Regions from separate parts of the Homo sapiens genome. Here regions 2 and 3 are each linked to region 1. The links come from fine-mapping of genetic effects on gene expression. A gene starts in region 1. Each other region holds a variant in brackets. All regions are shown on one strand. Distances are between the middles of the regions. Region 1 holds the start of ZNF34 (zinc finger protein 34). Region 2 holds the start of ZNF7 (zinc finger protein 7). Region 3 overlaps ZNF251 (zinc finger protein 251).

Evidence for each region. PIP is the estimated chance that this variant, and not a neighbour inherited with it, causes the effect.
Region 2: its variant is fine-mapped to the expression of ZNF34 in unexposed skin (GTEx, PIP 0.96).
Region 3: its variant is fine-mapped to the expression of ZNF34 in whole blood (TOPMed, PIP above 0.99).

What each region holds. Positions count from the first base shown.
Region 1 is chr8:144,783,380-144,791,870 of GRCh38, forward strand. ZNF34 (zinc finger protein 34) reads right to left here and starts at 3,938. Exons shown (of 6, transcript NM_001286769.2): 1 at 3,900-3,938. RPL8 (ribosomal protein L8) reads right to left here. Exons shown (of 5, transcript NM_001317782.2): 2 at 8,394-8,491; 3 at 7,898-8,116; 4 at 6,976-7,091; 5 at 6,390-6,583. The coding sequence ends at 6,425. It also overlaps the pseudogene RN7SL395P. RefSeq lists a silencer at 3,667-4,026 and enhancers at 4,177-4,406, 4,447-4,506, 6,689-7,190, 7,191-7,690.
Region 2 is chr8:144,819,568-144,830,382 of GRCh38, forward strand. It overlaps ZNF7 (zinc finger protein 7), which reads left to right and starts at 7,993. Exons shown (of 5, transcript NM_003416.4): 1 at 7,993-8,042; 2 at 9,476-9,523; 3 at 9,911-10,037. The coding sequence starts at 9,521. It overlaps LOC100130027 (a long non-coding RNA gene), which reads right to left and starts at 7,473. Exons shown (of 5, transcript NR_147501.1): 1 at 5,746-7,473. RefSeq lists a silencer at 7,184-8,313 and enhancers at 7,645-8,170, 8,171-8,696, 8,697-9,222. The variant G/A (reference allele first, on the strand shown) is at 5,277.
Region 3 is chr8:144,714,455-144,725,269 of GRCh38, forward strand. It overlaps ZNF251 (zinc finger protein 251), which reads right to left. Exons shown (of 5, transcript NM_138367.2): 5 at 6,455-8,928. The coding sequence ends at 7,190. It overlaps LOC100996662 (a long non-coding RNA gene), which reads left to right. Exons shown (of 3, transcript XR_001746144.3): 3 at 1-391. Among named protein-coding and RNA genes, the nearest start is that of ARHGAP39, 34 kb to the left of the region's middle. The variant A/G (reference allele first, on the strand shown) is at 4,980.

The sequences.
Region 1 (8,491 bases):
AGTTACAGAAAAAAGAAATATAAGCTACAAGGATCAGAAGAAAAAAGACAAAATCATCATTCTTTGAGAATGATAAAAATAATCTACATAGAAAATCCAAGAGTTATCAATCCACTGTTGGAATGACAGGAGTTCCACAGCATTGCCATATACAAGGTCAACAGAGAATAATTAATACCACTTCTATTTGTCAGCAATCAGCAACCGAAAACTGACCATTCACAATAGCTACAAAAACTATACAGTACATTAAGTCTTAAAAAAAGATATGTATGTAATGAACAACATTATAAAACTTTATTGAAGTACCTTAGAAAGGTCTATGGAGAAACAGACAATGTTTCTAAATAGGAGGGCTCAATAACATAAAGATATCAATTATCCCCAAGTTAAATTTATTTTGTGCAATTATAATAAACATTTCAACAGGACATGATATCTGACCAAAATGACTCCAAATATCACATGAAATAGTAACGATCTAAGATTAGCCAAGGCAGTGTGGCCAGGCGCAGTGGCTCACGCCTATAATCCCAGCACTTTGGGAGGCCAAGGCGGGAGGATCACGAGGTCAGATCGAGACCATCCTGGCTAACATGGTGAAACCCCATCTCTACTAACAATATAAAATTAGCCCGGCCATGGTGGCAGGCGCCTGTAGTCCCAGCTACTCGGGAGGCTGAGGCAGGAGAATGGCGCGAACCCGGGAGGCGGAGGTTACAGTGAGCCGAGATCACACCACTGCACTCCATCGTGGGTGACAGAGCGAGACTACGTCTCCAGAAAAAAAAAAAAAAAGATTAGCTAAGGCAATACCAAAAAAACAACCAAAGGAGGCAAGGGTGTGCCCTACTAGATATCAAGACTTAGGCTATGGTAATGGAAAGTGAAGTTTAAGTATAGGAAAAAAGATAATGGAAGACATCTATGGATATGTTAATATACCTGCAATATTAATGGCAATGAAGAAGGACAATAAATGGTATTGGCACAACTGGTTTTCCATTGGAAAATAAAATTAGTTTCCTGCCTTCTGTGGTACACAAATATACTTCAGGCAGGTTGAAGACCTAAACATTAAAAAAAAAAAAAAAAAAAGGTCGGGCACGGTGACTCACGCCTGTAATCCCAGCACTTTGGGAGGCCGAGGTGAGTGGATCACAAGGTCAAGAGTTCAAGACCAGCCTAGCTAAGATGGTGAAACACTGTCTCTACTAAAAATACAAAAATTAGCCGGGCGTGGTGGCGGGCACCTGTAATCCCAGCTACTCAGGAGGCTGAAGTAGGAGAATCGCTTGAACCCGGGAGGCGGAGGTTGCAGTGAGCCAAGATCACGCCACTGCACTCCAGCCTGGGTGACAGAGCAAGACTCTGTCTCAAAAAAATAAATAGAAATAAAAATAAATAAACAATAAAAGCCTATAAAGAAAAAGATTGTTTGATTCCATCAAAAAGAAAAAAGGCCAGGCATGGTAGCTCACACCTGTAATCTCAGTGCTTTGGGAGGCCGAGGTGGCCAGATTGCTTGAGCTCAGGAGTAGGAAACCAGCCTGGGTAACATGGTGAAACCCCAGCTCTACAAAAATTAGCCAACGTGGTGGTGTGAGCCTGTGGTTCCAGTCAAAACCTCAGGTGGCTGAGGTAGAAGAATCGTTTGAGAGTGGGAGATGGAGGCTGCAGGGAGCCAAGATGGTGTCACTGCACTCCAGCCTTAGCCAGACCCTGCCAAAAAAAAAAAAAAAAAAAAAAAGAAAAAGGATTCTGTACAAGACACCACAAAGATAAAAGGCAAGCAGACAAGCTGCAGAGTGAAAGATATTTGCAGACACATAACAAAGTATAAATATACAGAATATATTTAAAACATTTTTAAATTAGAAAAATGTCACAATTTTTAATAAATGAACACAGGATATGACCTGGCAAACCCTGTAGTCCCAGCTACTCAGAAGGCTGAGGCAGGAGGATCACTTGAATCTAGGAGTTCTGGGCTGTAGTGCTGCTGTGCCAATTGGGTGTCCCCACTAAGTTCGGCATCAATATGGTGACATCCGGGGAGCAGGAGACCACCATATTGCCTAAGGAAGGGTGAATCAGCTCAGGTGGGAAACAGGGCAGGTCAAAACTCCTGTGCTGATCAGTAGTGGGATCACGCCTGCGAGTGGCCACTGCACTCTAGCCTGAGCAACATAGTGAGAACCCCATCTCTAATTTTTTAATTAAGAAAAAATGTAAAGTAAAACAAGACTCTCCCCACAGATTGGGGAAATATAAAATACTTCATAATACCAAATGTTCAGAACACTGTAAACTGGTAGACACTCTAGAAATATGTCTGGCCCTACCTGGTAGAACTGAAACCCTGCAAAACTCTCAGTGGGGAAACCCCACTCGAAGTATGTACTTTATGGAGACTCTTGCTAATGCACACAAAAAGAAACACAAAAATGTTACCATGTGCCTGTGTAGAAGAAGAAAAAACTTCAGCGTCCATCAGCAAAGTCAGAGTGGTGGAAAGTAATGTCAAGGAGATAGAGCACAGTTATAAGGCTGAGAAAAACTGTCAGGTACAGAATATACACAGTATAATACATAGGTAGTTTTTTTTTTTTTTTTTTTTTTTGAGACGGAGTCTTGCTCCATCACCCAGGCTGGAGAGCAGTGGCGGGATCTTGGCTCACTGCAAGCTCCGCCTCCCGAGTTGACGTCATTCTCCTGCCTCAGCCTCCCAAGTAGCTGGGACTACAGGCGCCCGCTACCACGCCCGGCTAATTTTTTTGTATTTTTTAGTAGAGACGGGGTTTCACTGGGTTAGCCAGGATGGTCTCGATCTCCAGACCTAGTGATCCCCCCCGCGCCTTGGCCTCCCAAAGTGCTGGGATTGCAGGCGTGAGCCACCGTGCTCTGCCATACATATGTAGATTTTTAAGAGACAAAAACAGTATTAGGTTTGTAGAGATATAAGAAAACGAGGCCGGGCGCAGTGGCTCACGCCTGTATTCCCAGCACTCTGGGAGGCTGGGGCGGGCAGATCACTTGAGGTCAGGAGTTCGAGACCAGCCTGGCCAACATGGTTAAACCCCATCTCTACTAAAAATACAAAAATTAGCTGGGCATGGTGGCGGGCGCCTGTAATCCCAGGTATTCGGGAGGCTGAGACAGGAGAATCCCTTGAACTCGGGAGGCGGAAGGTGCATTGAGCCGAGATCGCGCCATCGTACTCCAGCCTGGGCGACAGAGCGAGACTCCGTCTCAGAAAAAGAGAGAGAGAAAGGAAAGAAGGAAGAGAAGAGAAAAGAAAAGAAAGAAAAAATAAAGAAGAGAAACAAAAATCTGGCTGCCTGGCTGCGGGGAGAAAAGCCTTGGAGCGCCAGAAGCGAGGAGGGTGGGGCGGAGGGAAGGCACAAGCAGAGGGAGGAGCACTGGCGGAGCGCGGACGCTAAAGGCAGGAGGGGCGGCATTCGCAGAGGGCTGGGAGGACCGCGAGACGCACGAGCCCCGCCCCTGAAAAGCTGACAGGAGAGGAGCGTGGGAGGGAGCCGGGATGGGAAGCCTCGGGCCGCTGGGACCAAGGGGTCTGGAGCGCATCGGGACGCAGAAGCCGCTCTGTGCGGCAGGAGTCCAGGGGACCCCGCGTGGGGCAAGGGAGTTGTCAGGGGCTCGAGAGCGGAAGGAGCCCCGTGAGGAGCGACCCCAGGGCTGGCAGAGAGCGGCGAGGCGCAGTCCGTACTCGGGGCCTTGTCCGGGGGGTCCCTCGAACAGGAAGTGCCGCTGATGGCGGGACGGACCCACGCCTGCAGCACCGCGAGAGGACCGGGCACAGGGGCAACGCGCAGGGGAGGGTCTGCGCCGGGAGGGTCTGCGCCCCGCGCGCCCGCCCCCGCCGGGCTCACACTCACCTCAGCGCCGCCGAGCAGCACGGCAGCCCAACCTCGCCCGTTCGGCCCTCCCTCCCCGCCAATCGGAACCGATCCGGAAGTGACGTCAGCCGACTGTCTGGGTCCGAGGCGCCGTCCGGGCCGCTCTGGGAAGCTAGGACGCCGCGTGTCGGCTGCCCACCTCCCTGGCTTGCAGTAAGGCTCCGGGGACCCGCGAATGGCAAAGCCGTAAAGCGGGAATGCTGCCACCGGGTGGCAGTCCGAAGCCACGGCCCAGAGGCCTCAGAACTGGGGCGATGGTCAGAGGCGAAAACATATTAGTCTTTCCCTTTTTCTGAGAAATTCTCTCCCTAATGATGCACGAAAGGCGCCGCAAACAAGAACTAGGCCCTTCGATTTACAGAGAAACGGGAACCGCACCCTTCCTTAGGGCCAAGAAAGGATGCTTACTGGCCAAAGAAGCCTGTCTTGGGTTTAACCTATTGCTCCTCATCCTTAACTCCTGTAAATGGGGCCCAGTGTCCACTCTGGAGAAAGGGTTTTTCGGGTGCCTGAGCTGCTTCTGGAACAAACTTTCCCTCATGGCCGGTCCATCGGCCAAGCCCTGCCGTCCACTTTGCCCAGAAGGGAGCAGAAAAACAGTGACCGCTTATGGCCAAGCTAAGCATCTAGTGCTTTCCCAAAACCCTCTTTCCAGATGCCCCTCCATCCTTCAGGAGGAAACACCGCCCTCCTGGATTCTTTCTCGACAAGTCAGCTGGGACCCTGGGACCGGCCCTGCGAATGACGAGATCAAAACCAGGTCCCGTAGTTACTGGCGGGGAGGCGGGGCTGGAGTGGGAGGACCACATGAGGCCAGGGGCTTGAGACCAGCCTGGCAATAGCGAGAGCCTGTCTAAAATAAACAGGCCCTGCTGGGTCACTGCCTAGGTGTGGTGGGCGCCCAAAGACAGGTGGGGCCATACCAGCAGGATCAGGAAAGCAAGATCACGAAATGGGGGGTAAGGTTCTCTAGAGACAGCGTGGACCATGACAGCCAGGAACCACCGCGCAGCCAGTTAGGACTTGTCATCCCGGAGTGACCACGGAAGCCTAAGGTGACTATTCTCACCTGCCAGGCACCCTCCAACCAAGTCTATAGGGAGAGACCGTGCCTCATCCTGCCTGCTGCAGTTCCACAGGAGTGTTGTTAGGGGCAGTGATCTGCAGCTGCTGCATTCGCTGGTGGAACTTCCTCGTGTGAAAGTGCTGATAGGATGCTGTCCTGGGATCTCCTCATTGGATCATGGTTAAGGGACAAGATGCCATGGGCTATGGCCAAACAGGAAGCCCCTCCACTCTGCCTTGTGACGGAAACCAGCTTACTTGCCCTCCCATTGCAGGGGGGGTTCCCCAACACTTCCAACCTGATTCCACTCAATCATCACTGTCAGCCTCATCACTACCAAAGCTAGAGAGAACCAAAGTATCAGCCCCTGCCAGCAGGGAAAGGCCATGTGCTTTAAGGTAATCAATGCAGCTTTGGGGGCTGTTCCTGGTTAGTTTCTCTGCCCCAGGGAAGAGGGGGCTACATGCCCTGCGAAGCTGTGGAGTTACAGGACTCAAGGAGCAGACCAACCTACTGCTGGTGCCAGCTCCAGTCCAGTGTAGGGCTCTGGGTGGGTGGGTGAAGGGACTTGGGTGGTCTGGGATTCCCCATACACACACTGCATGCATTCATCCCTTTGTTCAGCAATCCCAGCAGTGACCTGGGACCCCACACTCAATCACCACCCTCAACCTCACCTGTCACTATCAGGCTAGAAAATGAGGAAAGGCATGAGGCCCCACCCACCACCCACAGGAAAAAGCACCCAGAACCCTCCAGTCAGTGACCACTCCCCACCATGGCGGGGTGGGAATGCATGCAGAACAGAATGGTAAAAGCCAGGCTAGGAATGGCTTCCTGGCTGTAGACAGGGTGCCTGTCCCACATTCCTTCAGGGCCCATCCCAAGTTCCCAGTGCAAGGCAGACACCTGCAAGCCAGGTATCCCTGGCAGTGACTTAAACACACTGACATCAGCAGGGCTGTAGCCAGTATGGAGGGAAAGGGTGTCGCTAAAAGACCCTGGGCAAAGGACTGCCTCAGGTGCTGAGAAAGTTAGCAGGGAGCTGACAGAGTGAGGGTATGGTCCAGAACACCAGGCTCAACGATTGTGTCCTATTCTGTTTCCTGATACGTGAAATGAGTGTTCACATCCAAGCACTGCAGGCCATGGGACTGAGTCACCCACATAAGTGTCAGGTCCTGGATGCCACATTCTTGGTCCCCTCTGTGGGGAAGCAAGGGTCTTGCCCAGGGTACCTGCACCCCGTTTCTAGTTGTGGACTTTCCCTTCAAGCTTCTACCACTCACTGGTGGTCTACTTCAGTAGTCTAACTCCCTCCCAGTACCAACCAGGGGGATCCCACAGAAATCCTCCCAGCAGGGACCCCTCCCTTTGAAACCATGGGGGTGGGCACAGCCAGGTGGCATAAACACAAACTTTATTGAGGCCCTCAGCACTAGTTCTCTTTCTCCTGCACAGTCTTGGTTCCCCGGAGACGTCCAGTCCGGCGGGCAGCAATGAGACCCACTTTGCGGCCAGCAGGGGCATCTCTGCGGATGGTGGAGGGCTTGCCGATGTGCTGGTGGTTGCCACCTCCAAAAGGATGCTCCACAGGCTGCAGGCAGAGAAAGATGGCTTTAGAAACCTCTTCCCCACCACCCCCGCCCCCGGCCTCGGGGTCCCACCCGTCAGGGGCCCAATTCCGCGAAGCCCCTCTCCACAGCATGTGCCGCTAGACAACCCCAGTCAGGCTGACTCTTTCCAGCTCAGGCCCCCACTGCCCCTCCCAGCCTCCGTTTCTTGCGGAGAAACGGTGAAGGAGGGTGAGCCCACCTCCTTCAGGAGTGCTGGAGCAGGATCAACAGTCCCGTGACTACAAACCACCACCTGCTGCTCCTCCCACCGTAGATCCCCCTCCTGCAGGGACACCTGTGGATGGGACTTGCCTACCCAACAGTGTGGCCACTGTAACTTCAATACCCAACCCTGCATTTCTGGGTTACTTACATTCATGGCCACACCCCGTACTCGTGGCCAGCAGTTCCTCTTTGCCTTATATTTGTGGTACGCCCGGCCAGCCTTCAAGATGGGTTTGTCAATTCGGCCACCTCCAGCCACCACACCTGTAGGGGATCAGATACCTCAGGGAACCCCCAGTCGGTCAGAGCACCCCCACCTCCCCTCAATCTCCTGTCATGCACCTTCCCAATACTGCATCCAACTACCCAGCAAAAAGCCCACTCGCCTCCACCCTAGGGAGCCCCTTGCACCCTGTGAGCTGACATCCAGTTTCTTCAATCCACAATGGGCAGGCAAGCCAAGGCCCTCACCTCCATCACCTAGAATGCTGGCTGAGCTCCAAGCGCAGGGAAGCACCCCCCTCACCATGTGTGAGACGTCAGGCCGGCCACTCAACCTGACGTAAGACACTTGATTCAGCCTGCCCCATCTCAGCTTTACTTATTCCAGGAACACAACCTCAGAGCCTCCCCTGTGCGAGGCTGAGTTCATCACAAGGATTCCAAGATGTTCCCAAACAGCACAGTGAGTTAACCTAGACTCAAATCCTTTTTCACTCACTCAGTAGGCGTCTTTGAGAAAGCCACAATCTCTCCCTGCCTTCTCTAAAAAGGCTGTTAACCAACTGCATGCAAGTGCAGCAATCAGGAAGCCCACGGTAGAATCCAAGACCCTGGTGACTTCGTCCCAATCTCATTTAACGCCTCAACAGCAGTAAAGCAGGTACTGTTGTGCCTGTTGTACAGTGATGACAACTGAGACTACAGGATGAGCTCAAACTTACAGAACCCAAGTTTTAGAACAACAGGTAATCGAATTCCAGGGACCAAGTCTAGCCACTGGCTGTCCACCGGCACTCACAGCATGTTCACCCACAGCCCTCAGCATTCAACTGCTGCCTGATACTCACCAACCACAGCTCTGTTGGCTGAGGAGATAACCTTCTTGGAGCCGGAGGGCAGCTTCACACGGGTCTTCTTGGTCTCAGGGTTGTGGGAGATAACGGTGGCATAGTTCCCTGATGCCCGGGCCAGCTTGCCACGGTCTCCAGGCTTCTCCTCCAGGCAGCACACGATTGTACCCTCAGGCATGGTGCCCACAGGGAGCACATTGCCAATGTTGAGCTGGGCTGCAAGGGGAAGCAGCATCAGGCCGTCAGCACAGTAAGAAACAATGCGAACCCCCTCGCTCTAGGCAACCCGCGAAGTTGCGAGCACAGCATTCAACATCCAGCCTCCCGGTACAACTCTCTCGGCACCCACCGGTGGCCACTGGTCTGGCCACGCGGATGTCCCCACCTGAAGCTTCTGCCTGCGAGGTTCCCATATCGGCTTAGGACGTTAACTCCTCAGGCAACACCCAGACCCCTCCCCACCCCGACCTTCCTTCCCCGCCGCGATGCTAACCCTTCTTGCCGCAATACACAAACTGGCCCGTGTGAATGCCCTCGGCGGCAATGAACAGCTCCGTCCGCTTCTTAAACCGATACGGATCCCGGAAGACC
Region 2 (10,815 bases), 37 kb after region 1:
CTCGGAGTGGACACTTCAACCTGGCAGCAACTCTGGGGCCAGTTAGCTTGGATTTCTACGTAACGGGCAAAATGTCATAGGCTCCCACAAGGAAGCAGCGCCCTCCACCCAGCTCTGTGGCCTTTGGCTCTAATCTGACACTGTATGGGTGGCCAGGCCCCCAGGCTGGACCCACAGCAGCCTCCCACTACCGCCAGTGGCCTGAGATTGGCAGTTAGAACTCAGATCCTGAAACTAAACCACATCCTGCAGAACACTAAGCAAGGGACTCACTTTATGATCTAAGATCCAAACTCCTTTGTGAACTCCCCATTGTCTGGCTTGGGGAAAAAAGCCTGTCACTAACTGAGGAGTCTAGTTACTCACACTTCTTCACCAGCAGCCCAAGGGGGTCTGACAGGGGGTAGGGGGAGATCACATTGCATTGGAAAAAGAAACCCCCAGCCTATGGGACACAAGCTCCTTTCACCTGTGCTCCTCCTCTCCTGCTCAGCATCACACCTGGCCTGCAATCACCCACAACTGTCCTCCTCCCACACACAGCTGCTGTGGAAGGCAGGAGGTGGTTCTGTGGGCGTGGGGGAGACCCTGGTGGCACCCTTAGCAGCCTGACCTCTGTGCCTCCGTGTCTCACCTGCAAAGGAGGGCATCTCCTGCCTCACAGGTGCTTGTGAGGACGAGCTGAGAGACCAGCTTTTGAACGGGGAGGGGCTGTGACATGTCAGGGCTGTTCTGGACCCAGGGTTACTGCAGTGAACCAGAAAGATTGTGCTGCAGGAGCCGAGGAGGTTGCCCTGACAGGCCTGGAAGTGGCTTAGGCTTGGATCCTCCATCCCTGAGCACCTGGCATCGGGCAGACCAGCCTCCCTGGGGCAATGCCCACTGAGAAGCTGCAAAGCATCCTCCTGGACCATCTGTACCCTGGGGGGACATCCCTTGGTCCCTCTGTACCCTGCAGACCGGCCCCTCTTGAGGGACACACAGACTCCGGCAAGGCAGGAGCCAAGGGCAGTGAAGCAAACCTGTCAAGGTGCTGCCGTTCCCTTGGGTGTCTCCCGCCAAGCGGCCTCCATTCTCAAGGAAGGGAGCACCGGCCACCTGTATGCATCCACCGCGCGAGTGCGCAGGGGCAGGCTTGCCAGGACGGAGCGGCCTTGCCACCCACTGCCCACGAAGGCATCCTGGCACACCCAGCATGGTCTGAAACCCTCGTATGAAGGAGGAGCTTCTCACAGCCTGCTGCTGCCCCAGCCACAAGAAACACAGGAGCACAGGTAGGGCCCACGGAGTCCTTGAGGCCTGCTACGAGGGGCCAGTAACTACGTTTACGCCAGCAGCCATAAGCACAGGGACACAGGCAGATACCACCAGCCCGGGAAGGACGGGTGCGGTGGCTCACGTGCCACCTGCCTTCTTGCCGCAGCAGGCCTGTGGCCACTCTCTGGCTCTGCCTATCCCCATGCAGGCTGGACCTGTGGGGCACTGGTCCCTGGAGGACTCGAGGTCATGGGAGACTCTGACCCTGCCCCCAAGGAGTCTAGGGGAGCTCAGAGGTGCTCAGCTGGAGACAGGCCTGTGAGGGAAAACTGTCATTCACGCCGCAGGCCACATAAGAGTGACCAAGGGGTCACAGGTCTGAAAGGGCACTGGCGAGGAAGATGGGGAGGGCACCAGTGGGGGCCAGATGAGGACTCCGGGGCCCTGAGGCCTGAGAACAACCTTCACCTGCCGTGAGACACACCTGACGGCTGCACCTGCCGCTGATGTGGAGGCAGCCAGAGCTGCGGCCAGGAGTTCAGGACCAGCCTGTCAGCAGCTGCCAGAGAGGCCCCACCAGGCACCCCCAGTGCCTCTCACCTGCCAGGCTCTAAGCTCTGGAGCTGTCTGTTCTCAGAGTCCACCCCAAGGAGGCAAGACACTGTTGGGCCTCACAAGCCCTGTGCCCCGGCTGTCGCCTGCATCGACATGGCCCAGCAATCCAAGCCGGCTCATCCGGCAGCTCCAGGGCCCCTCGGTGTTCGTGGGTCTTTGTGAGCTGGGGAGAGCTGGAGAGAGGCCCCTCCGCGTTCGTGGGTCTTTGTGAGCTGGGGAGAGCTGGAGAGAGGCCCCTCCGCGTTCGTGGGTCTTTGTGAGCTGGGGAGAGCTGGTGAGCAGGCCCCCCTTCTGTGAAACAATCTGGGCCTCAATGATGAGTCAAGACTCAGGTCCAGTCCTGGTGGCCGGCCACCCTCCCTCCTCTAGGACACCCTCCTCTTGTCCATCACACCAGGACGTCCCCTTCTCCTCCCTCTAACTTCCACTGAGAATGGCCGGCCGTCCACGGGCTCCACGCCCCTAGCCAGGGCTACAGTCCTCACAACCTGGCTTGAGGTCTGAGCTACCGGCTGAGGGTTTCTGCCCTGGGCTCTAGCCGTGGCCTCCTGGCTCCTTTGTTTTCTTTCTTTTCTTTTTTTTTTTTGAGACAAGGTCTGGTTCCATCACCCAGGCTGGAGTGCAGTGTCGTGATCTTGGCTCACTGCAACCTCCGCCTCCCAGGTTCAAGTGATTCTCCTGCCTCAGCCTCCTGAGTAGCTGGGACTACAGGCACCCGCCACCACGCCAGGCTAATTTTTGTATTTTTTGTAGAGACAGGGTCTTGCCATGTTGCCCCGTCTGATCTAGAACTCGTGAGCTCAAGCCATTTGCCCTCTTTGGCCTCCCAAAGTGCTGGGATTATACGCACGAGCCACCGTGCCCGGCTGACTCCTTTTTCTGAAACTCTTGAAAACTTCTTGTCTCTACACCTGCTCAAATTCAAAATCTACTCCCAAACCCCAAGACTGCAAAGAAACAACAGTCAAATCTCAGCCATCCCCAGCCACAAGCCCAAGGCTGATGGACAGACCCCCACCTAGACCCAAACTGCGTCTCTGTCCTGGGGGGACAGACCCGGCCTGGACCCCTCTGTGCTGAGCCCCTCTGGTCCTGGGCACCTCAGCAGTCCCACCAACCTCTCACCACACCATCTCTGTCGCCACTCGGGTGCTGCAGAGTCTGCAATGGTGGTTGATTGACAGCTCCCCCTCTCCTCCATGGTACAGCCCCCACCAGCAATGCAGCTGTTCCTGTTCAACAACAGGCCCCGAATGACCAATATGACAACATGGAGGTCCTAACAGCTGCTAATCGAACCCCAGGTTTCTCCTGCTTGAACCCAGGGAAGGATCCCTTGCCTCCTGAGATGCACTTCAAACGGCCATGTGCTGCTGAAGGGCCTGGAAACCCAGCCTCACCTGACCTCACTTCTCCTCACCCTCACCTGGAATGACCACAGTCCCTGCACCAGGGCAAAGCCAATCGCTGTCATTCAGGCTGCTCCTCCCTGACCGACCATCTCCCCTCAGGACCCCTGGTGCCCTGAACAGCAGGCACAGAGAAGACCCTCCAAGGTCACGGCAGTAGATACCCTCTCCCAGCCCATGTCACCGGGTCCTCAAGCTGGAAGCCTCACTGTCGACTCATAACCAGCCCGTGTGGCACTGCTTCCTGAGGCTGCCTCCCCCTGGACATCCCTGGTGTGATGGCAGCACGGCCATCCCCAACGCACAGCAGAGCCTCCATCTCCAGGGCCTCTGTGCCATCCTCCTCTGTGTGTGCGCAGCAGCCTCTACTGCTGTTCCCAAAACCCCAGTCCTGTGGCTGCTCTGGCACTCGTGGGTCTCTGTATGGCATGGTGCCCAGGTGGGGCCAGCTGTCTGCCCCAGCCCTCCGTGAGGTGGGCGCTGTGGCTCTTGGAGGCTCCTGGCTCCTAGTTCTCTGTCCTCCGAAACTTCTGAGCTCCCAGGCCCACTCCAAGTTGTGGCCTGGCCTATGGCAGTGGAGCTGTGTCCACCCTGTTCACGCTCACTCACCTCTGCTAGGGTCCCTTGGGAGCACTCTCCCCCGTTTCTGGCCGGGTGAGGATCCAGGGCGCCTCCCCTCATTCCAGCAGGGAGATTAGCTCAGGTTTGCAGGCTGGAAATCCTGCTTGAGGAAAACAGTCCAGAGGCCTGGAGTGAGCCTGGGGAGGTGCAGCAGGCAGGGCCTGAACCGGCGGACCCTCATACCCAGCTAGCCAGGCGGGCTGCCCACAGGACACTTGAAGGGTAGGAAGCGGCTGCCAAGATCTCACCCCCAAAGATGCCCAGCTGGCACAAGCCTCCAGTCTCTCTTGATTTGGCTGTTAGAGAAAAGCAGATTCTGCTTGTGGTTGTCATCATGCCATCCCAAACAGATCATCACTACAGGGAGGCACGATCTCTGTACTCTGATGGGTGCGGCATGGGTGAGGACTGACTGTCCAGAGGGCCCAGGGTGCCTTCCAGGAACACCTACAGCACCGCGACCTGATGCTCACCTCACCCCATCCCACAGCAGCCCAGTGCCCTCCTGGCAGTGCCCACTCCTCCCCAGCTCACCCGTCAGGCACTGTTCCTCCCTAGGTGTTCTCTCCACTGCATAGAGGCTTGGACCCGACTTCACGAAGACATTTTGAAACCATGCACCAGAGAGTGTGTGCATAGAATGAAGAACCTTTTGTTTGCAGGGCTCCGTCCCTGCTCTCCAGGGTCACCCAAGCATTTGGGGCCTTGATCCTGGAGAGGCTGCTCCCTCCAGGGCTAGCTAATTCCCAGAGACGGCAAACACTCCCCTTCCAGTGCACCTTTTTTTTTTTTTTTTGAGACGGAGTCTCGCTCTGTCACCCAGGCTGGAGTGCAGTGGCGTGATCTGGGCTCACTGTAGCCTCTGCCTCCTGCGTGCAGGCGATTCTCCCACCTCAGCCTCCTGAATACCTGGGACTACATGCGTGCACCACCACACCCTGCTAATTTTTTTGTATTTTAATAGAGACGAGGTTTCACCATGTTGGCCAGGCTGGTCTCACCTCAGGTGATCTGCCCTCCTCGGCCTCCAAAGTGCTGGGATTACAAGCGTGAGCCACTGTGCCCAGCCCCAGTGCACCTTTGAGACACAAACCAACCAATCCAGAGTCCACAACTATCTCCCTCCCTTATCACACGGTCACTCACCAAGCCAATATTTCCCCTGCCCTAAGTAACCCGAGGGCCAGGTACCGGACAAGAAGGGGCCACCCCTACAGCCCTGAGCCTGCCACAATTGTTCAAATAGTCCAATCGTGAGCTCACTCTGCATACCTACCCTGCCTGCCCTCTCCTTCCAGAGAAAATAAAGGCTCCGGCCAAACTCAGTCCTCTCCCCCTTTCTGCCTCCTGGCCATCCCTGGTCCTTCTCATGTC[G/A]CCCTGTGTGCCCTGCCCAGTTTCCAGGGACCCACGACTATAACTTCTTCCTTCACAACAGTCATTCTCACGTGTGCATGCCTTACCACACCTGTTAAAACAAATCCACGGGTCCGGGCGCGGTGGCTCACGCTTGTAATCCCAGCAATTTGGGCGACCGAGGTGGGCAGATCTCCTGAGGTCAGGAGTTCGAGACCAGCCTGGCTAACATGGTGAAACCCCGTTTCTACTAAAAATACAAAAAATTAGCCAGGCGTGGTGGCAGGTGCCTGTAATCTCAGCTACTCGGGAGGCCGAGGCAGGAGAATCGCTTGAACCCGGGAGCAGAGGTTGCAGTGAGCTGAGACTGTCATTGCACTCCAGCCTGGGCAACAAAAGTGAAACTCTGCCTTAAAAAACAAACAAACAAACAAAAAACAAATCCAGGATACATTTGAACTCACCTTGAGATGTGGGTGTCTGCACTCACCTTGAGATGTGGGTGTCTGCAGATGGCAAGGGACCTGTGGAGGGGCTCTGTGGATTGGAAGCACCATTGCTCTGGGCTGTCCACTCGGATACGGAGAGTGCTGTTGGAAATGCAGCACCTTGAAAGTGTCTTTGTAGTTGAGATTTTTTCCTGGAAACATTTACAGCTTGGAACTGTTCTATCTGGCCAAATATGAGGAGGCTAGAGTTGCCCCAAAAGTGGCAGCAAGGGAGTTGCCTCAAAAGACTTCCCCAAACAGTCCCGCGATGGAATTGGTTGGGATTCCAAGGAAAGAAGCTCTAAACGCCAGGGTGATCAGTCCAGAGCATTTCTTCCGGAAATTTTCACATGGAGCTTCAGCTTTCTTGGGATCGATGATGAGGCAAGGGATGCTCCACCCAGGTACATTTGCAGCAAGGGACTCTGGCTATGGAGCTTAGATGAGAGTTTAAGGGATTGGACTCAGGGCAGGGCCAGTTTCTACGTGTTTAGCAATAGGGTTGATTGTGTTTTCAAGCAACCTAAACAGCTTTATCAGGGAATGTGCCCGGCCCCATTGAACTGGGTTCAAGGCTGCAGGGAACACGCAATGGCCAGGTCCCAGAGCAATCAAAGGACTCTGTGTTTCTCAATCAGTAGAGAAAGAAAAGGGGGAACTGGAAGACCCTGTGAATCCCAATCTCAGCTAGGGATGAGCAATCCAGGCTGGCCCAGAGCATAAGCACCGTGACCATGTGAGGGCCTGAGTGTGCCTGGCTTTGGAGGGTCTGCTTGCTCAGTGGCCTCTAGACTCAGCCGGGCAGTGGATGCAGTGGATGGAGGAAGCCCCCTCGCCCCAGACAGGACCTCAGGGCCTCAGAGCCCTGGCATCTGCACCCTGGACACAAGGAAGGTGCCTATGAGGTGGATGCTCTAGCCAGGCTTTCTCCCCCTCCTGCTCCTGTGTTACCCTGGTGTGCCCCCCTCACCTGCAGCAGGCCAGGTTGGGGCATAGGGTTGCCGGCCCCTACCAGCCCTGGGGGTCTGGAGGGCGGCTGGGGAAGCAGACCCCCTGTCCTTCCCTATCCTTCGCGACATGCTCCCTGAGCAGCTGCAGTCCACTTAGATGACCAGAGAGGATGTGGGGCTGAGGGAGCCGAACTCGGGGCAGCAGGGGCGGGGGTGGGAGTGCCGGGATCATCCGCACCGGGAGAGGCGAGGCCGGCGTCTGTTTTTCACCTGGGCCTCCCTGGGGGGCTGGGGGCTGCCTGACTCTTCCCTCCTTTGGTTTGCGCAAGTTTTCCCGCGCGGGTTCGGATCAACACGCCGGGGGAGCCCGGCTTACGTCCCTCCTGGACCCCCGCCCCGTTCTTCCCGTGGGGAGGGGCGCGTCAGGCGGACCTGGCACCCTCCGGCTGCTGGGCTTCGCCGGGAGCCACGCGGGGAGGTCCAGGCAGTCGGGACGCAGGCAGCGTCCTCGCCGAGGCTGCGAGTCCGTGGCCGTCCGGGGGAGGCGCGCAGGCTCTGCCGGACGCAGAAGGAACCCGAAGGAGGCGGGGTGGAGGGCGGTGCGGGGCCGGGGAGGGGCGAGGCGAGTGGCGAGTGGACGCCGGGCCCGGCCTCGGGCAACTCCGAGGGGCGCCCTTCCTCGGGGTCCCGGAGGCTCTGCGACCCCGCGGCCGCTCCAGCCGCTCACTGGGGACAAGGCCCGAGCCAGGCGTCTCCGCGAGGCGGGGTCCATAGCGCGCCCAGCAGGCGCCTCCTGTCGCAGGGACGCGGGGGAGCGGCGCCTGAACAGCCTCGGTGGGAACCAGCGCCCGAAGCTGGTGATCCGGGGTGCGCAGGGCCCAACCGGGCGATCCCCTGGATCTCCGCCAGCCTCGCCCCGACTCCGCTCCTCCCACCCGCCAGCGAGTCCGCAACTCCCGGCCCCGGCCCGCGTCCCCAGCTCCAGGCCCCGGCCCCGCCCCGCCCCTGCTCAGGCACCGCCCACTCCGGGCTCTGGGCCCTCCTCTCCCTCGCGGCTCCGCCCCCTGCCCGCCTCTGACTGTACCCCGCCCCCAGGCGCCAGCCCCGCCTATCTGGGCTTCTGGTCCCGCCCAGGTTCTTGTCCCTCGGGCCCCAGCCTCGCCCCTCCTCGGCTCTGACTCCACCCCTTCTCCGGAGCCTGGGAGGCGGGGCTGAGAACCACAGAGATGGCCGGGCCTCCGAGCGGCCCAGGGCGGCCGGAAGTTTGCGGGGCGGGGCGGACGCGGGTGGCCAAGGCCCGTTTCCGGCGGCGTCGCGCGTTTGCGAGCCTCGGGTGGTCCTCAGGGAGGGTGAGTCGGCGCGGCGGGCGCGGACTCGGGTTGCCCTCGGTCCGAGTGATCCCTGGTCGCTTCCTTAGCCCTCCCGCCTTCGGCATTGGGGTCCCCGCGTCCCCCGGGCCTCCAGGCGGGAAAGCGCGGGGGCTTTGCGGGGCCTTGAGCGCCTGGTGTGGGAGGTGGTCGAGCCCAGCCACCCTCCCCCGCGGCGGCGCGAGGTGGGCTTCGTTTGGCCGAGTCTCGCAGCTCCCCGCAGACCCCGCTCGTGGCGGCCACGGTGTCCGGGGCCTGAGTAAGGCGAGCTCCAGCTGCGGCCTTTTCTTCAGGCCTGGGTCTACTCCCGGGGCCCTGACTCCTCCTGCGAAATCACCTCCTTCTAGAGCCTTTTCTCTTTCTATTTATTGCCCCGGAAGGCCTAGGATAAGTGACAGTGGAGGAAGGAACGGTGCCTTGGGTGGGGTAGGCTGTTTGTCTTCTCTAAATTCTGGTTGCTATTCCGGGCATTCCTACTGTCAGGAGCCAGGTGGGGGGATCAGCCTACCTGTGCCGGTGACCTGGGGCTTCCACCCACAAACCACTTTCTGGGCCAGAAGCTGCCATACGAAGACTCTTTTTCCCATTCCGACCTCCCGGGGGAATGCCTGGGCAGGTAGAGGGTCTGGGGTCATTGGCTTAATTGAGGTGAACGATTTATATCAGATTACATCCCTGTGCCTGGTTCCATCCTGGCGACAGGTGAGCTGGAGACTGGAATTTATGTACTTGAGGGCAGGGGTTTCCATGTCCACTCTTGTCTTCCCTACAGTTTGTCATTTTTGCTCCTGCCTTCTCCAACCTCCAGTCGCTCACTGCCTTCCCCAACCTCCAGTCGCTCACTGCCTTCCCTTGCTGCCGGGAATTTACCCACACTGGTTCATCCAACCCCATTTCTTCTTGCTTCAGGCCCTTTCACATGCTATTCCTGCTGCCTGGAGTGCTCTCTCCACCTCCATTACCTTGGCCGAGGTCCCTGGGGAAGTGACCCATTACACTGAACGTTCTAGTCTAAGTGGCTTTCATAGTTCCCTGTACTTGAGCGCTGTCGTGGTTGCAGTGTGCTTATTTGTGTGGTTATTTAACTCTTTCCTCCGCCAGACTGCTTCGTGAAGGCAGGGTCCTCGTGTCCACTACTGTATCCCCATTACTCAGTGCCTGGCACGTGGCATCCACTTCTTACGGCTTTGTGGAGTGAGTCACACATGCCACACACACATACACTCTAAAGAGGAACAAGAGTTCAGTGGGCCTCCTTCACTCAAGTGCCATGGCTGCTTCAGCCCAGCCCCATGTCCCTGCTAGAGAAATCTGGGGCTGGAGGTAAAGGAGCAGAGAGCACAGTACCCCCTTGATTAGCCTGGAAGTTGGGCTTCTGGCACCTTGACCTCTAATCCTTTCATAATTGCCAACAGGTCTCTCGGCCAGAACACGTGGATGCCCACCCACCACTGAGCCTCATGGTAGGAAGCTTGACTGCCTCCTTCCCCTCGCATGTCCTGTGAAGGCCCACCTCCTGCTCTGCCCACTGGCCCTGGGCCCAGACCCTACCTTGGCCCTTGCTGGGCTTAGGAAGGCCCCCTTGCCCCCAACCCCAAGGTAGTGAGCAAACCCCTGCCCAAACCAGGGCCTAATTGAGGCTCTTGAGGGGGGAGGGTTGTATGACCACCATGGACTGGGTTCCTTCCTCCTCCCCGAGACTGCCCCTCCCCAGAATATTAGAGGCAGAGGAGTCCTGGTGAGCGTCTCGCCCAACCCCATGGGGCAGCTGCCTGAGACATGTCATGAGGCAGCGCCAGAAGGGGGCTGGCACCCAGGGATTCCTGGGGTGCTGGTGTGTGTCCTTTCAGGAGGTGGTAACATTTGGCGATGTGGCTGTGCACTTCTCTCGGGAGGAGTGGCAGTGTCTGGACCCTGGCCAGAGGGCCCTCTACAGGGAAGTGATGCTGGAGAACCACAGCAGTGTGGCTGGACTAGGTGAGGCTGCACCTTGGGGCCCCTTCCCCTGCATCATCAGTCAGCACCCACCCAGCCAGGCCTCCATCAGAGGCTGGGGTATGCAGGCCAAACGCTCAGACCCTTGTGGGCTCCACAGGGGGCTTGGACTCATGAGTGGTGTGCCAGGCTGGTTCCTAGCTTTGCCCATGTCATGGGGTTCAGCCCCCAGGGAGTGGGTGGGATTCTGGGAGTTAGTAAAGCCTCTTTTTTTCCTAAGCTGTTAAATTGTGAGAAATAGAATCCAAACTTGAAATAGCTTAGACAAGAAAAGAGAAATTATTGGGTGGAGAAATCCAAGGAAAAGGTTGTGCAACGAGCAAGAGGTGGCAGCGACGCCCACACGGCTGCTTTGCAGATGCCGTCATCCCCTTGCCCCTCCTGTCCTGCCGTTAGTCTCCTCTCTGAACTCCACCACCGCCACAGGCAGCCACTGCGGTGCTCTTTATGTCCATGCCTGTGTCCTCACAAGCTGTATACTGTCGTTGGATTGCAACTTGGTGAGGGGGGGTGCGTCTTAACTTGGGCCTTGCTGGGCCTCTTGCCTGTGACTAAGCCCTCTGCTGCATCACACGCCCGAGAGAGTGCCTGGGCTGGGGGATCAGGAGTGGAACTGACGCGGGCATCGTTGGTTGGCCAGGAGCTTCTTGGGGTGTTGGACCAGGCCTGTCCCCCTCTGTCCCGGCTAGTCTGGCAAAGTCCAGCTTTCTGTTTTGCCAGTCAGATAAGTGTACAGTGGGAGGCTGTTGTAGTTTGAGTT
Region 3 (10,815 bases), 68 kb before region 1:
CCAAAGGACGCGTGCGTGGCCTCAGGAAGTGCCGGAAGAAAGCCTGAGTCTGAATCTGAGAATTTCTCCAGGTTTACCTTCTTGAGGGGTCGCCAAACTGTTTTCCAAAGCAGCTGCCTCATTGTACCTTCCCATTCTGTATCTGTTCATCCATACAGCCATACATGACAGTTTCTCCACATCCTTATCAACACTTGTTATTGGCCTTTTTTTAAAAAATCATAGTCATAGCTGGTGGGTGTGAAGTGGTGTCGCTTTGTGGTTTTGATTTGTATTTCCTTGATAAGTAATGATGTTAAGCATCACCTCACATGCTTAATGGCCATTTGTGTATCTTTGAAGAAATATCTATTCAAATCTTTTGCCCATTTAAAAACTACTTGTCTTTTTATTGAGTTGTAAGAGTTGTTTCTCTGTTCTGGATACAAGTTCTTTAGCAGATAGATGGTTTGCAGATATTTTCACCTACCGTGGGTTGTCTTTTTCAGTTGTTTGTTTTTTGAGACGGAGTCTCACTCTGTCGCCCAGGCTGGAGTGCAATGGCGCGCCATCTGCGCTCACTGCAAGCTCCGCCTCCCGGGTTCACTCCATTCGCCTGCCTCAGCCTCCCGAGTGGCTGGGATTACAGACGTGCGCCACCGTGCCTGGATGGTTTTTGTACTTTTTTTTTTTTTTTTTTTTTTTGTGAGACGGAGCCTCGCTCTGTCGTCCAGGCTGGAGTGGAATGGTGCGATCTCGGCTCACCACAACCTCCGCCTCCTGGGTTCAAGCGATTCTCCTGCCTCAGCCTCCCGAGTAGCTGGGATTACAGGCACTCGCCACCACACCAGCTAATTTTTGTATTTTTAGTAGAGACAGGGTTTCACCATGTTGGCCAGGCTGGTCTCAAACTCCTGACTTCGTGATCCGTCCACCTCGGCCTCTCAAAGTGCTGGGATTACAGGCGTAAGCCAGTGAGCCCGGCCAGTTTTTGTACTTTTAGTAGAGATGGGGTTTCAGCATGTTGGGCAGGCTGGTCTCGAACTCCTGACCTAAAATGATCCACCCGCCTCAGCCTCCCCAAGTGCTGGGATTACAGGCGTGAGCCACCACGCCTGGCTGTCGTTTCACTTTCTTTTTTTTTTTGAGTCGGAGTCTGGCTCTGTTGCCCAGGCTGGAGTGCAATGGCATGACCTCGGCTCACTGCAACTTCCGCCTTCTGGGTTCAAGCAAATCTGCCTTGGCCTCCTGAGTAGCAGGGATTACAGGCGCCCACCACCACACCTGGCTAATTTTTGTATTTTTAGTAGAGACAAGGTTTCACCACATTGGCCAGGCTGGTCTTGAACTCCTGACCTCGTGATCTGCCCGCCTTGGCCTCCCAAAGTGCTGGGATTACAGGTGTGAGCCACCATGCCCAGCTCACTTTCTTGATGGTATCATTTGCAGCACAAAAGTTCTTAATTTTGATGAGGTCAATATTTCTCTTTTTATTTTGTCATTTGTGCTTTTGGTATCTCTTTCAAATAACCTGCTTTTGGTTTTCTTCATTGACTTTATTGTTTCCTTTTTTAAAATGTTCATTTTCCCATTACTACTTCTTTCTTTAGGTTTACTCTAATATTCTTTGTCTAACTTCTTAAGTTGAACATTTAACTTCTTAGTATATTAATTTTTTTTTTTTTTTTTAAGAGGCAGGGTCTTGCATAGTCACCCAGGCAGGAGTGCAGTGGTGCCATCATAGCTCACTGCAGCCTCAGACTTCTGGGCTCAAGTAATCCTCTCACCTCAGTCTTCAAGTAGCTGGGACCACAAGCTCAAGCCACCATGACTGGCTAACTTTTGTGTTTTTTGTAGGGACAGAGTCTCACTATGTTGCCGAGACTGGTCTCAAACTCTGGCTTCAAGCAATCCTCCTGCCTCAGCTTCCCAAAGTGCTGGGATTGTAAGCCACTATGCCCAGACTAATTTTTGATTTATAATTATGAAAGTACAATAGATTACTTGACAAAAGTTTATAAATTAATGAAGACTGGACTTAGTAATAGGCTGATTCTTTTTAAGCTCTAAGTAATAGAAGTTGAAGGACAGTATTTTTAGTAGCGATGGGGTTTTGCCATGTTGGCCAGGCTGGTCTTGAACTCCTGACCTCAGGTGATCCGCCCCCCTCAGCCTCCCAAAGTGCTGAGTTTACAGGCGTGAGCCACCATGCCTGGCCTTAAGCTTTCTTAAAGTTTTTATTTAATTATGAACCTGACAAAAGAAGTATATATTTATCATGGACATGTTTTGAAATATGTGTACATTGTGAAATGGCTAAATGGAGCTAAATAGCATATGCATCCTCACATACTTTTTTGTGGTGAGAAAAAAGCTACTCTAGGCAGTTTTGAAGAGTACAATACATTGTTAATAACGATAGTCACCATGTTGTACAGTAGATTTCTTGAACTTATTCTTCCTATTTACTTCCTCCAAAGGACACAAAGGAAATTTGGTACCCTTTGATCAACATCTCCCTGAGCTTTTTTTTTTTTTTTTTGAGACGGAGTCTCGCTCTGTCGCCCAGGCTGCAGTACGGTGGCGCGATCTCGGCTCACTGCAAGCTCCGCCTCCCGGGTTCACGCCATTCTCCTGCCTCAGCCTCCCGAGTAGCTGGGACTACAGGCGCCCACCACCATGCCCAGCTAATTTTTTGTATTTTTAGTAGAGACGGGGTTTCATCATGTTAGCCAGGATGGTCTCGATCTCCTGACCTCATCATCCACCCGCCTTGGCCTCCCAAAGTGCTGGGATTACAGGCATGAGCCACCACGCCCGGCCTCCCTGAGCTTTTTATTTTGAAATAATTTTAAACTTGAAGAGTTGCAATAATGCAGAGAACTCCCAAATAACCTTAACTCAGACTCACCAGTTCTTAACCGTTGCCATATTATTTCTCTTTCACTTTTTTCTGAACCATTTAGAAGTAGGCTTGAAAGAGTCATTTTGTCTATAATTTCCTATGTTCCATATCTTCCTGTATTTCTTCCTGTTTCTTTTTGGGGGTACAGAATATAGGATGAGACACTTTTTAGTTTTAAAATATCTGATTCTAGATGTTTTTAGTATCTCCAGATGCTTGCTTGAGTATATTTACTTCTGTTGTGTTAGTTTTCTTCTGCTCCTTTGACTTCTAGTCACCTTGGACTCCCAGGACTCCAGCTCCATCTCCATCTCCTAAACTTGTAGAGACTGCCCAGCATCTCCTTATGCGCAGGTGGATTTTTTTCCTAGTCTGTCTTTATACAGGGGGTTCAACCCTTTGGGGTTCCAGCTTTAGACAGGGGCCCAGGTTCCAACCATCACCCTCAAGCCACCCAGGCCTGTCTTCATGGGGGCTGTAAACGAGCCCCAGAGCTGTCCTAGCATCAGTTTCCAGGTGGGAAGCTCTGACTTTCATTTCGGTCTTCATTTTTACCCCTGAGGTGTTCCCTTGCTCTCTTGGTGCTTAACCATGCATTGTCCTACTAACATCCTCAGTCCCAGGGTCCACAGCAAGTACGTGTCACAACAGCCCTTAGAGCCACCCACAAGCCCTCCCATGCCCCGGTGCTTCCTTCCATTCTACGTAAATGTGAGGCCTGTGGGCCTCTTAAGGGAGGCATCATTGTGGGACCTTTCCAGTAGATCAGAAGGAGAAAACAATTTTAATGTACCCAGTGTGCTCATGGACAGAGCAGAAGCAGAACACAAGGTTCACATTTACGCAAAGCACATTCTTGGCACTGTTTCCTTTCTCTGCCTCCTTCACCTCTCTTCCTTCCTTCCCAAGTACATCCTAAGCACCTGTTCTGTATCGTGTGCTGGAGATAAAAAGGTGCATAAGACAACATCTCTGACAGCAGAGAGTTCTCCGTATAATGTAGGGTAACGAGGTAGAAAGGAAAATGTAAGTTGAAATGGTGGGGATATGAATGTTGTGCTGTGGGATACAAGGGTAAAAGAGTTATTTTTTAGACGTGGGGGAGGTGTTTTTTTCCCCCATTTTAGAGCTGGAGAAAAAGAGACCCAAGAAGATTCAGTGTTTTCCCTGAGGTCAGAGTGAATCCATTTCAGAGGGAGACAGGACCCTCCAGGTGAGCCTGTGCTATCCACTCCCTCTTTTGTGTGGACCATTCCACATGGACCACACTAAGGCTGGCAATTCCCACACTTGGAAGAGGTTCTGTGATAAGAATTTTAATAATAAAGTGGGGGAGACAGAACCTGAGCGGGGGAATAAGCGCAGCAAATCACAGAATGGATGTTAAACCAAATGTAGCGGTGACCCCAAATTCCCTAAGAAAACAGTAAGGCCAGGCGCCGTGGCTCACGCCTGTAAGACCTGCACTTTGGAAGGGCAAGGTGGGTGGATCGCTTGACTCCAAGAGTTCAAGACCAGCCTGGGCAACATGGTGTGACACCATCTTTACAAAAAATTAAAAAATTATCTGGGTATGGTGGTGTGTGCCTGTAGTCCCAGCTACTTGGGAGCTGAGGTCGGAGGGTTGCTTGAGCCCAGGAAGTCAAGGCTGCAGTGACCTGTGATCGCTTCACTGCACTCCAGCCTGGGTGATAAGAGTGAGACACTGTCTCAAAAGAAAAAAAGAAAACAAAGATGGAATGAGAGATTAACTAAGGTAGGCTCCTTGAAGGGGGGAAATATTTCAGTTAGACCTGGAGGGAATGAAAGGTAGATTTGAAAAAAGATTCTTGGCCGGGCACGGTGGTTCATGCCTGTAATCCCAGCACTTTGGGAGGCCGAGGCGGGCGGATAACGAGGTCAGGAGATTGAGACCATCCTGGCTAACACAGTGAAACCCCGTCTCTACTAAAAAATACAAAAAATTAGCTGGGCGTGGTGGCGGGCGCCTGTAGTCCCAGCTACTTGGGAGGCTGAGGCAGGAGAATGGTGTGAACCCAGGAGGTGGAGCTTGCAGCGAGTAGAGATTGCGCCATTGCACTCCAGCCTGGGCGAC[A/G]GAATGAGACTCCGTCTCAAAAAAAAAAAAAGAAAAGAAAAGAAAAGAAAAAAGATTCTTGCAGGTAGAGTCTCAGAATTGAAAATCAGAGGCCGGGCGTGGTGGCTCACACCTGTAATCCTAGCACTTTGGGAGGCTGAGGAGGGCGGATTATGGGGTCAGGAGTTTGAGACCACCCTGGCCAACATGGTGAAACCCCGTCTCTAAGAAAAATACAAAAATTAGCTGGGCGTGGTGGCACGCGTCTGTAGTCCCAGCTACTCGGGAGGCTGAGGCAGAAGAATCGCTTGAACCTGGGAGGCGGAGGTTGCAGTGAGTTGAGATCGTGCCACTGCACTCCAGCCTGGGTGACAACGCGAGACTTTGTTTCAGAAAAAAGGAGAAAAAAAAAAAGAATTGAAGATCAGAATTTCACAGGTGATCACACTCTGAGAAACTACTACAGTGTTATTCAAACTTCCCAATGAAACTCTTTAAATAGATGCTTACTGATCAAACCATGGTCAATAGGAGAATGCAAATTAAAACCATGGATACCACTACATCTCCACTAAAATAGCTAGAATATTAAAAAATGGACAATACTGCTGGGCACGTTGGCTTATGCCTGTAATCCCAGCGCTTTGGGAGGCTGAGGTGGGTGGATCACCTGAGGTCGGGAGTTGGAGACCAGCCTGACCAACATAGAGAAACCCCGTCTCTACTAAAAATACAAAATTAGCCGGGCGTGGTGGTGCATGCCTCTAATCCCAGCTTCTCAGGAGGCTGAGGCAGGAGAACCGTTTGAATTGAACCCGGGAGGCGGAGGTTGTGGTGAGCCGTGATCGCGCCATTGCACTCCAGCCTGGGCAACAAGAGCAAAACTCCGCCTCGGAAAAAAAAAAAAAAAAAAAAGGACAATACCAAGATCTGGTGAGGATTCAAAGCAACTAAACTCACACATCATCAGTGGGGATATACAACTGACTTTGTAAAAGTTTGGCAGTTTCTTAAAATGTTAAACATAAGCTTACCATATGACCCAGCAATCCCACTCCTATTTACCCAAGATAACTGAAAAGTTAGATTCACAAAACAGCCTGTAGTTGATACACAGTGATGGCAGCTTTAATCATAGTTGCCCATACTGAAAATGCCCAAATACCCTGCCATGGGTGAACGGATAAACAAATGGCTCCATCCATACAATGGAATGCTACTCGGTGCAAAAAAGCACTCTACACAGGCAATATGGATGACTCCAATGCATCATGTTCAGTAAAAGCAGCCACGTGCAAACAGCTGCACACTATTTCTGGAAATGGTGAGGTGATGGATAGAGGATAGAAAACAAACCAGTGGTTTCCACGGACTGGGGTTGAGGAGGGGTTAACCACAAGAGAGCACAAAGGAATTCTGGGTGGTGGTGAAGATGTTCAATGTCTGGAATGTGGTAGTGGCACAATTGTATGTTTTTGTCAAAGCCCAAAGAACTATACACTAAAAAGAGTAAATTTTATTGTTTATAAATTATGCTTCAATAAACCTGCCTTTAAAAAATTTTTTATCAGTAATTACAATTTTCAAAAGTGGAGATACTTGGTAGGCCCCTGCTTTCTTGGCCCCTAAGGTCCCTCTCTCTGTTAAACTGTAGAGCTCCTTAGAACCAAAACCAAACCACCTTTCATTTTAATGAAAATGAAATGCAAAAACTGGGGCTCCAAGCAAGGAAGAAACGTCTACCTGCAGTTCATCTGGGGGTTGGTGGGAGAGGTGGTGGAGAGAGTAAGGCTAAGCGCCCCCAGCAGGCCCAAGTTCTCTGTACCACACTTGGAGGCAGGTATATGGGACTGAAAGTGGATGTTCTCAGCCACAAGCCTGGGCCTGGATAGGAAACAAAGGATAAGACTGGAAGGATGTCAGGTAGGGTAGACCCAGAGCACCAGCTGGGCTCACTTTTCACGCCCTCCATCCATTCGTCATGAGTATCCGGATACAGCACCACACGGTTCAACTCCTGAGCACAGCAGTAACCTTTACACAGACAGCCTGATTTCCCAGAATGAATTCTCGTGTTTACTTCCAGATTTAATGACTTTGACTTTAGTAGTCATCTGAACTATTTATTTTACTTTGCCAGTAATATTTAGACCTTATATATCTTTCATTATGCCATCTTATCTTCTAATGTCAAGTGAACAGTTGCTAAACTGTCTTCTGCATTTATCACATTAAAAATGTCTTTCTTGGAAAATCTTCTTGATATGAATAAAGTATCTTTTAGAGCCATCATTTAAAGCAGGTTTCTCTCCAACACGAGTCTGCTGAGGTGGTGTGAGCTGTGAACTCTGGCTGAAGGCTTTCCCATACACACTGCAATGACATGGTTTCTGACCAGTGTGAGTTACCTGATGTTGAATAAGGGTTGACTTTCCACTGAAGGCGTTTCCACATTCTTGACATTTATAGGGCTTTTCCCCAGCATGCATTATCTGATCTTCAGTGGGTCGTGAGGTGGGACTGAAAGCTTTTCCATATTCATTACATCCAAAGGATTTCTCACCAGTGTGAACTGTCCAGCGCAGAATGAGATTTGCACCATGGTTAAAGGCTCTGCCGTGCTTCTCTCCAGTGGGAATCTGTCCATCTGCTGTGAGGCTGGAGCCATGAACAAAGGCTGGACCATGTTTTCTGCACTTACGAGTCTCTCCGCTGTGAACTTTCTGATGCTGAATGAGGGTTGACCTCCGGCTGAAGGCCTTCCCACAGTCACCACAGTCATAGGGCTTCTCTCCAGTGTGAACTCGCTGATGTAGGGTGAGCTGGGAGCTCTGGCTGAAAGCTTTCCCACATTCAACGCACTGGTAGGGCTTCTCCCCAGTGTGAACTCTTCGATGCTGAACAAGAGTGGAACTCCGACGAAAGGCTTTGCCGCACTCATTACAAACATAGGGTTTTTCTCCTGTGTGAATCCTTACGTGTTCAGTAAGATGAGAGTTAAAACCAAAGGCTCTGCCGCATTCATTACATACATAGGGTTTCTCTCCAGTATGAACCCGATGATGGAGGAAAAGGCTTGAGCTCTGACTGAAGGCCTTCCCACACTGATTGCATTTATGGGGCTTCTCTCCAGTGTGAATTCTCTCATGCTGAATAAGGCTGGAGCTTCGACTGAAGGCCTTCCCACAGTGACTGCATTCATGCGGCTTCTCTCCAGTGTGAATTCTCTGATGCTGAGTTAACTGGGGGCTCTGGCTAAAGCCTCTTCCACATTCATTACACTTGTAGGGTTTCTCTCCTGTGTGAATGATCCGATGTTGAATAAGAGTTGAGCTTCGACTGAAAGCCTTCCCACACTCACCACAGCCAAAGGGTTTTTCTCCAGTGTGAATTCTCCGATGAAGACGGAGGTGAGAATTGAGTCCAAAAGTTTTCCCACATTCATCACATTTAAATGGTTTATTTCCAGTGTGAATGTGATGGTGCAGAACAAGATTTGAGCTGTGAGTAAAGGCTCGCCCACACCGGCCACATTCGTACGGCTTCTCCCCAGTGTGACTTCTCTGGTGTCTACTTAGGTCTGAATTATATTTGAAGGTTTTGCTGCATATATCACATTTAAAGACCCTCTCTCCTGTTTTATTTCTTTGAAGTCTAACAACATTTTGGTCCAGATTCAAGTTTCTATCAAATGCACTACACTCTTGGGTTCTTTCTCCCAAAGATCTTTCCCTGCCCACGGTAGCTTCTGTTAAAACTCTCTTGTGAATATTGGGTTTGTTCAAACTCTGCCCGGCAGAATTTCCCACGCGCTCTTTGAGTTTGCCCTCACGGCCCCATGCTTCCCGAAACTCAGCGGCCTGTGCATTATCCCTTAAGAGTCTTCTTGATACAAATTCTGGGGTTTTTACTTCTTCGGAAAATTTTTGGTTTAAAATAGATAGTTCCTTCTTGGTCCCAACCTCAGAATCTGTTAAAGAAAAATATAAATGAGTTACTAGAGAAAACCTTCCATCAGGCATAATGTCCATAATGTGGTAGAAGCTCCTATAAACCATCATGCAGAAGGCAGATGCTCCAATAGGAAAAGATGTGAAAGGCAGAATTCAGAAGTAAAGATGGGATGGCCAATCAACAGGATAAAAATATTCAAGTTCATTAGTTATCAAAGTAGTCAAATCAAAACAAATTACGATTTTTCACCTATCAAATTGGCAAATTATTCAACAAATATTTAGAAGGCCAGGCGTGTTCTAGGTAAGGAATATACAGGAAGGTAAATATAGTCTCTGATCTCATGAAGCTTATGTTCTACTCAATTAGATAGCAAGTAAGTTCTTAAAAATAATGATACACCATGTGACAGAAACTGTGTAAATGTGTTATTGGCCCCAACCTAGTCTACATGGTCAGAGAAAATGCCAGGAGTGAGATTCAAGCTGAAACCTGACAAAAGAAGTAAGTTAGCAGTGACAGACAGGAAGGCCTGGGCCTGGCTGTGATGCACAAAAATATCCACCGAGTTCCTGATGTAAAGAATCTGGGCCAGGGCCAGGCGCGGTGGCTCACGCCCGTAATCCCAGCACTTTGGGAGGCCGAGGTGGGCGGATCACGAGGTCAGGAGATCGAGACCATCCTGGGTAACACGGTGAAACCCCGTCTCTACTAAAAATACAAAAAAATTAGCCAGTCGAGGTGGCAGGCGCCCGTAGTCCCAGCTACTCAGGAGGCTGAGGCAGGAGAATGGCGTGAACCCAGGAGGCGGAGCGAACCCGGGAGGCAGAGCTTGCAGTGAGCTGAGATCGCGCCACTGCACTCCAGCCCGGGCAACAGAGCAAGACTCCGTCTCAAAAAAAAAAAAAAAAAAAAAAAAAGAATTAAAGCAACAATCATGCCGTGTACTGTTGGTGGGACTGTAAATAAATGACCTTTTTTTGAGATAGTGTCTTGCTCTGTTTCCCAGGCTGGAGTGCCACGGTGCAACCACAGTTCACAGCAGCCTTGACCTCTCAGGCTCAAGCAATCTTCCTGCCTCAGCCTCCCAAGTAGCTGGGACTACAGGTGCAGGCCACTGTGCCTAGCCAAAATATAACTTTTTTAAAAAGCTGACAATATGTAGCCAAAAAATTGATATCTCACACACCCTTTGTCCCCCAAACTACTCCCCTAGGATCCATCCTAAGTGGACTGCCATATGTACGTTGAAATGACTACAATGATGCTCGCTGCATTTTGTAATTGGGGGGAAACAAGGAAGAACCCAAATGTCCAAAAACGGGGCTGTTTAAACCCAGTAAAAACTATTCACATAATGGAATACAATTCTACCATTATTATAATAGAAAGATATATAATTAAATGAAAAGCTCATATTACAAAGAGAAGAATCAGGTTCTAAAATTATATGCACAGCATAAACCAACTTTTATTGAACATAGATATATATGTAAGATAGTTGCTATTTCTTCCTTAACTGTTTAGTACAAGTCGGTGAAGCCATCTGGGCTTGGCATTTTTTCTGAGGAAGGGTTTTAAATTATGAGTCAATTTATTTAGCACTCAAACAATTATGTATCCACCACCACCTTTTTTCTTTCTTTCTTGTTTTTTTTTTCTTTGAGACAGAGTTTCACTCTTGTTGCCCAGACTGGAGTGCAATGGCACGATCTCGGCTCACCACAACCTCCACCTCCTGGGTTCAAGCGATTCTCCTGCCTCAGCCTCCCGAGTAGCTGCGACTACAGATGCTCACCACTATGCTCGGCTAATTTTTTGTAATTTTAATAGAGACGGGGTTTCACCGTGTTGCCTAGGCTGGTTGCAAACTCCTGAGCTCAGGCAATCCGTCCGCCTCGGC